Homo sapiens: one gene and its partner. The protein of the gene in region 1 interacts with the protein of each later gene in a biochemical or structural test. Each region holds a gene or a part of one and is shown on either strand. Other genes may lie near its edges.

Region 1 (3,500 bases):
GTTCCCGCAGCTGGGCCTCCCCTCCCCAGGGTGCCTCCGCCCGCAGAGCCCCTACCAGTGGAAGAAGAGCCCGAGGCTCCTGGCAGGGGTGAGGAAGCGCGCATCCAGGAAGCACAGCTGGTTGTAATAGGCTGTGAGCAGCTCCAGGCCCGACTCATTCCGGCTGGGGGTCCGCATGGCCTGCAGGGCAGGAGCCACTGGGCCCCACCGCCCTGGCCCACCCCACTCACACACACTGCCCTGGGAAGTCCCATGGGCACCAGCACCATGGGGGGCGGGGAGGCAAAGCCAGTGGGGCCCTGGGCAGCCGTGACTCCCGAAGGCCAGCAGCATGCGGCACCGGAGCCACCTGGGAGCCCCTCCACGCCCCCTGGCTGGGTCTGGACACACAGGGCCCCTGGTGCGCCCGTCTCCCCACGTCCTCGAGATGTCTACGCTGAGCTCCTCTGTCTGTTCCTGACTTCAGCTTCAGCCTCCGCATGTGTCTCCCAGGGCTGCAGGAGGGTGGGTGGGCGGGGGAACCACACACCTGCCGCAGGGCCTCCAGCTCCCTGATTTCTGCCTCGTAGGAGGCGCCGTCCTCTCCAAAGTGCACTGAGATCAGCTCCTGATGGGGGGCAGGTGTTGGCATCCACAGTACCCCTGTGCCTGGCCTCCTTCCCTGAGGTCTCCCAACCCACCTTGGGAAAAGACTCATGGTGGAGGGAGGGTCTGTGCCGCAGAGCAGGCTGGCTGCCATGCAGCGTGGGGGCCCTGGGCCCCTCAGTGGAAGCCCCAGAGAAGGGCTGGGGGCCAATGTGTATGGAGGGGCCTGGTGGGTTGATGCGGGTCGGAGCCCCTGTGGCCCTGGGGTTTCCCCACCCCATCACAGAAGCGGGGCCTGGAGACTCAGCGCTACTTTTACGTGCGTTTCCTTATTCATCCCCGTGGCCGGGAGGCAGGTGCCATCTGCCACTCAGTGACTCGGACACGGAACACAGTCAGTGGCTCCCGTGGGGCCCTGCCAGGCAGTGCCAGTCTGTTCTAGCTCTCCCCAGGACCCTCGTGAGCCAGTGCTGGGTGTGTGGCCCCAAGCCAGTGGTGCCCTCCATGGGCGAGCCTGTACCCTGTGCTCCGGCTGGGGCTTCCAGGCCCCATCCTCCTAGGGCATTGCCCATCCGAGGGTAGGGCACATGTTCACACCCACTCTATGGGATCAGCCCCGGCCTGGGGCGCAGGCACCAGCGGGGCCCTGAACGCAGCAGAGGCTGGGTCCCTGTGGCCATTTCTGCCAGGTCCCTTGCGTCCCTTTTAAGCCTCCCTCCCTCTGGGCCTCAGTTTCCCTATCTGTTCAACCAGACAGCTGGACCAGAAAGCCTCCAAGACCCCCTTGGTCCCAGGGCAGGGCCGTGTATCTCAGAGCTTGGAGGCCAGTACCTACCTTCAGCGGTGTAGACCAGTCCAGCTCCTTGGTCTCCTTCAGGCCCAGGGGGATCATGGGGACAGTGACAGCTTCGCTGTAACCAGAAGCATCGACTTCAGACTGTAAGGCCAAACCCTGCTGCCCACGGCAGCCCGGGGTCCACTCCTAGGGCTCTGTGGCACAGGGTGCCTCCCTCCCTCATGGGTGTGCACGTGCGCCTGTGTCCTGGGGGGCATCCTTGCACCTGTGCACCACCCCCCACCGTCCTAAACCGCCCCAAAAGCAAACACACACACACAGAGACACACACATGCGCGCGCACACACACACACAAACACATGCGTGCATACACATGCAGACACACATGCGCACGCACACACATATATGCACACACGTGCAGACACACACACGCGCACACACAGACACACACAGACACACGTGCATACACGCACACATAGAGGCAAACACACACCCACATACACGCAGACATGCACACGCACGCAGACACGTGCACACAGACACACGCACAGAGATGCACACACAGACACATGCAGACACACAGACACACGCGCACACAGACGCATGCACACACATGCACACACATATACACACAGAGACACACGCACACACACAGAGATGCACAGACACATGCACACAGACACACGCGCACAGACATGCATGCACACACATGCACACACGCACACACACAGACAATGCACACATATACACACAGAGACACACATGCGTGCACACACATGCACACACACACGCACACGTGCACACACATACACGCACGTGCTGTCCCGGCCCCCACCCGCACCTCCCATGCCGGCCAGGGTCCACGCCACCGCTGAGCTCCTCCAGCTCCTCCTTCAGCAGCTGCAGGTTGGAGTTGACGTAGCTCAGCTCCAGGGCGACCGTCTCTCTCACCCGGTTGTTGCTGGTGGCTCTGAGGGAGGCCGCGGCAGTTGAAAGCCCAGCCCCAAGGCAGAGCCAAAGGCCCCGTGCCCACTGCAGCCGTCCTGCCAGCTGACCTGTCAAAGCTCCAAGCCCACCCTGCAGAGGACGTCGCTGACAGGGTCTGCCCCCCATGGGTGGGGCAGGGGCAGCAGTGGGATCCGGGGGCTCACAGGTGATGCCCCCTACAGTTCATCACCCCGACCCCAGCACCTGCATGTTCCGACTCTGGCCTGGGGGCACCTCCCTCAGCACCACGGCTTTCTTTGGGGCTCATACAGCCCTCGACAGCACTCAAACATCACTCCTTGGATGGTGGGTGAGAGCCACACACCTCTCTGTGCCTGCATCAGGGCCTGGCAAAGGGACCGGAGGTCCCCAGGGAAGGCCAGGATGGGGGCAGGGAGGTAGCAGGTGCTAAGGGGACCGAGGGGCACTCACACGCACATGTGTGGCACACAGGCGGTGTGCTCTAAGGAAGAGGCAGCCCAGGTCTTCCACCCCCTCCCAGGTCCCCAACCTTGGGACGCGCCATCACCTGCCACAGCTCAGCCTCAACCATGCCTCTTCTGAGAAGCCCCCACGTGCACTGTTGGGGCTTCCCAAGCTGCACACCCGGCAGGGACACTGGTTTCCTGGCACCTCCAGCCCAGCACAGAGGCCCACGGAGGCAGGTCTGTGAGGGTCATGGCTGAGCATCACGTGTACTACGTGCCCACCAGGACCCAGCTGCTCATGCACCTGTCTCTGTGACCCGGCCATGGGGCAGACATCTGCCTGCGTGGCTGTCCTGCCCCCCTCACCCAGGTGGGCCCTGCTCCCGGGGCCGGGCAGTCTCAAGCACTGACCTGTAGAGGTTCTCAGCGCCCGTCCGCATCTGCAGCTCCTTGTCAATCTGCTGGTGAATCTGGGCCCTGCGGCTCTGCAGCTGGCCGCACTGGATCTGCGTCAGGGAGTCACAGCCCTGCAGGGAGGCCACAGGCGATCACAGCCCGACCCCGTGGCGCCCGCACCAGGCTGCGCCTCGCCAGCCACTGAGAGGAGTGCATCCTGCCCATGGGTAACGGGATGGTCACCATGCGCTGGGGCTGGAGCTGGCCTCACAGGGAGGGGCTGGACAGAACTAGTGTGAACACAGGCC
Region 2 (3,500 bases), on another chromosome or scaffold:
TCAGCTGCACACAGTCGTGCATGATCTTCATGGTCACCAGCGAGTGGATTTTCTGCTCTGCCCGCAGGCGCCGCATGCAGCCGCGGATGGCTTGCAAGCTGTCGGACTCCAGGTTGGAGCTCGTGGAAGGAAGCTCAATGGAGCCTAAGTAGCCCACGATCATCGCCACGTTTAAAATACTTGCATCCAATGCAAAATCGTCATGACTTTCTAGTCCAATGCTGAAAACCGAATCATCATGAATAACTTTTGATATTTCCTCCTTAGAAAGCATGTTGGGATTTGGATTATTTATACTTTCATGTCCAACATCAAATCGAGTTGCGGCCGACTCTGAAAGGGATCTTTGTTTCAATTTCAAGGGCTCTGAATTGCTCGCACAAAGGCTCGGGTTTTCAAAAATCATATTGAAAATTCCACCAGACTGCATTTCCTCCACGACTCGCTCTGCTCTGTTTATACCTAGTGCTTTAGAATCCAGCTTGGGCTTCAGCCAGCCTTTTCCTTCATAGAGTCCCCCTTCTTCATCACTGGAACAGGATTCGAAGCGGCCGACGCCTTCAGCAATCACCATGTGAAGGACACCAGAGCACTTCCCAATTAATTTCACTACATCTTCATGAGATGCTTTTTTCACGTTGATTTCATTGACAGCAAGTATCTGGTCTCCAGCTCGGAGGCCCACGAAATCCGCAGGGCTCCCTCTCATGACGCAGCTGAGCACACAGGGTGCCTGTCCCGAAAGCGTGAATCCGTAGCCGGCCCTCCCCCGGGCAACCTCCACACTCCGCACCCTTGGGGGCGACGGCCCAGGCAATGGGCGTTTGGAGGCCTCCCCAGCTCTAAACATTCTGATGAGCTTCCAAGACCAAGAGCACGTCTCATTGTTCCCTTGGAGCCATATTTCAAGGAATGCTTGATGCTACCATGTTTGCTTCTTCAAACAGTGCCCTAAGAAAGAAAAACGAACAGCTCATTATTAAAGAGCCCATCTTTCTCCACCACTCACTGGTATTAGCTAAACACAAAAAGATAATTCATAATAAAAACCACCACAGAAAGAGCCTCTAAGTGTCTATAGATAATAAATCTTCAAGTCAGGCTAAGAAACTTCCTTTCGGAGTAGAAAATGTCTCCCACAACTGCTACCTTGTTACCACACAAGTTCCTGCCAGGCCCACCTGCCACGGGTGTGAGGATGCAGGACTGCTTCCCAGCACTGCTTCCACACCCTGTTTGGATGGAAAGAGCCCCTTGCTACTCAAAGTGTGGTCCGTGGACTGGCAGCCCGTCTGAAAGGCAGACTCTCGGGCTCCACACAGAAGAAACACACCCAAACCCACGTTTCACAGGATGGCAGAGTCCAAGCGTGAGAAGCAAGGCCTGCTACAGGCTTCAGGTTCAAAGGCACCTGCAGAACACTGAGTCTAACCCCTTAGTTGATCATAAATCCCCTGACATAGAGTTTTCCCTCAGGAGAGGGGTCACCTAATATTCCATGACCCTCCCACATTAATTTATTTTGAATATACTGTGTGGGGGAAAACGTATTAGCCTGAAACAACCTCGATCAATACTGCAGAGGCCACTCAACAGGCTAGATAAAAACCACCACCTAAAAAAGCAGAAATGTCATATTAACTCAATTCTTCCAGGGGGTATAAAAGTATTGGTTGTCATTGAGAACAAACTTGTCAGTGGTCCGCGGATCACCCCCAGGCCAGTGATTCCCTAGGATTCCCAGGACTTGGCACAAAGGTGCTCTCACAGCTGAGATTCATTACAGCGAAAGGATTCCACACAAAATCAGCAAGGGCAGAGGTCCATGGGGCGATGTCCCAAAGAAACCAGGCTTGAGCTTCCAGAATCCTCTCCCAGCGGGGTCACGCAGGACGCACTTAACTCCCTACACAGTGAGCCGTGACAACGCATGTGCAGTGTCGTCACCAGGGAAGCCCACTAGAGACTCGGTGCCAGGGTTTTTACTGGGGGCTGGGCACATGGGCACCCTCTGCCTGCTTCGTGCCCAGACTCTGGACTCCCAGAAGAAAGGAAGGTTCTCAGCACAAACCTTGTTCCCCACACAAGCAGCTAAGCACAGGGAGCCCCTCTTCATTGAGGGTGGTGGGCACCGTCCTGACACCAGCGGGGGGCCAGCCTTGCACACAGGCCTCTCAGGATGGTCTCGGGCCTGCTGTGTAGTCTCTTCTGCAAGACTCTTTAAAGATCACTTTAAAAAGCAATACAGTAAGTGATTGTGTTGTGAAGACACAAAATAGAATAGAGGGTATGTTTTTTTAAAGAAATAATTGTTTTAGGCCAGGTGCGGTGGCTCACGCCTATAATCCCAGCGCTTTGGGAGGCCGAGGCAGGTGGACCACGAGGTCAGGAGATCAAGACCATCCTGGCTAACACGGTGAAACCTTGTCTCTACCAAAAATACAAAAAAAATTAGCTGGGCATGGTGGCGGACGCCCGTAGTCCCAGCTACTCGGGAGGCTGAGGCAGGAGAATGGCATGAACTCGGGAGGTGGAGCTTGCAGTGAGCCGAGATCGTGCCACTGCACTCCAGCCTGGGTGACAAAGCGAGACTCTGTCTCAAAAAATAAAATAAAATAAAATAAATAATTGTTTTAAAGTTAATAACTTCTAATAGAAAAGATTTTTGTGTCTTGGGATAAAGTTTCCAGCAATAGGATCATAAACAGATTTGAAGTAATTTACACACATAAAAGCTACAGAACTAGATAGAGTGGAAAGGCTATTACTAGGTGACTCCAAAAGTGGCTTCAGTGATGACAAAACACGGACACAGAACATGCGTACTTAGTAAAATTATGTTTTGATGGAAAAGAGTAAAAAATGAATATAAATTACATTACTCAATATCTAAGTAGTACTGTATTAATAATTTAAATATTAGGACTGGGCATTTAACTATTTAAAATCATTAAAAAATGAATTTAAAAAATAAAATAATTAAAATTATTTTATAATTTTTTAATAATTAAAAATTATTAAAAATCATCATTAAAAAATAAATAAATAAATGTAAAAGTTGGCCAAGAAACACGTCTGGGGATCGATCTTCTTAAGAGGTGTGACAGGCTGGCTGATGGCCCCTGATACACCCACATCCTCACTCCCAAGCTTTTGGATGGCTCCTCCCATCCACGTGACCACGTGAAGGCTCTAGAGATGGGGAGAGTGTGGGGTGCGCCTGTGTGAGCCTGGGGTCAGAGCCAGAGGGGACGGCCACATGAGGAAGGATGCGGAGACTGCAGGGATTCAAGGATGGGTCTCGAGCCCAGGCAGACGGGCAGGCGGTCACCTCCAGAAGCCGGAAAGGTGAAGGAAGCAGACTTAAAGTCACCAGAGGAACCAGCTCTGCCACACCTGCCATCAGCCAGGTCACACTGACTGCAGACACGAGGCCCCCGAAAACGCAGGAGAATGAATGTGTGTTGTCTTAAGCCCCCCAGTTTGCAGTAATTTCTTTC

The links. Proteins that work in one complex are often made in the same cells at the same time.
Region 2: the proteins of RHPN1 (region 1) and RGS12 interact in a test that uses a peptide from one of them, tested with the Homo sapiens proteins (one large-scale study listed by IntAct).

Annotation. Positions count from the first base shown.
Region 1 is NC_000008.11:143,375,376-143,378,875, reverse strand, and holds part of RHPN1 (rhophilin-1), read right to left. Parts: intron 3,324-3,500; coding exon 3,208-3,323; intron 2,352-3,207; coding exon 2,223-2,351; intron 1,497-2,222; coding exon 1,421-1,496; intron 608-1,420; coding exon 530-607; intron 181-529; coding exon 56-180; intron 1-55. UniProt on the Homo sapiens protein: Has no enzymatic activity. May serve as a target for Rho, and interact with some cytoskeletal component upon Rho binding or relay a Rho signal to other molecules.
Region 2 is NC_000004.12:3,313,521-3,317,020, reverse strand, and holds part of RGS12 (regulator of G-protein signaling 12), read right to left. Parts: intron 2,211-3,500; exon of another isoform or gene 2,072-2,210; intron 952-2,071; 5' UTR 851-951; coding exon 1-850. UniProt on the Homo sapiens protein: Regulates G protein-coupled receptor signaling cascades. Inhibits signal transduction by increasing the GTPase activity of G protein alpha subunits, thereby driving them into their inactive GDP-bound form.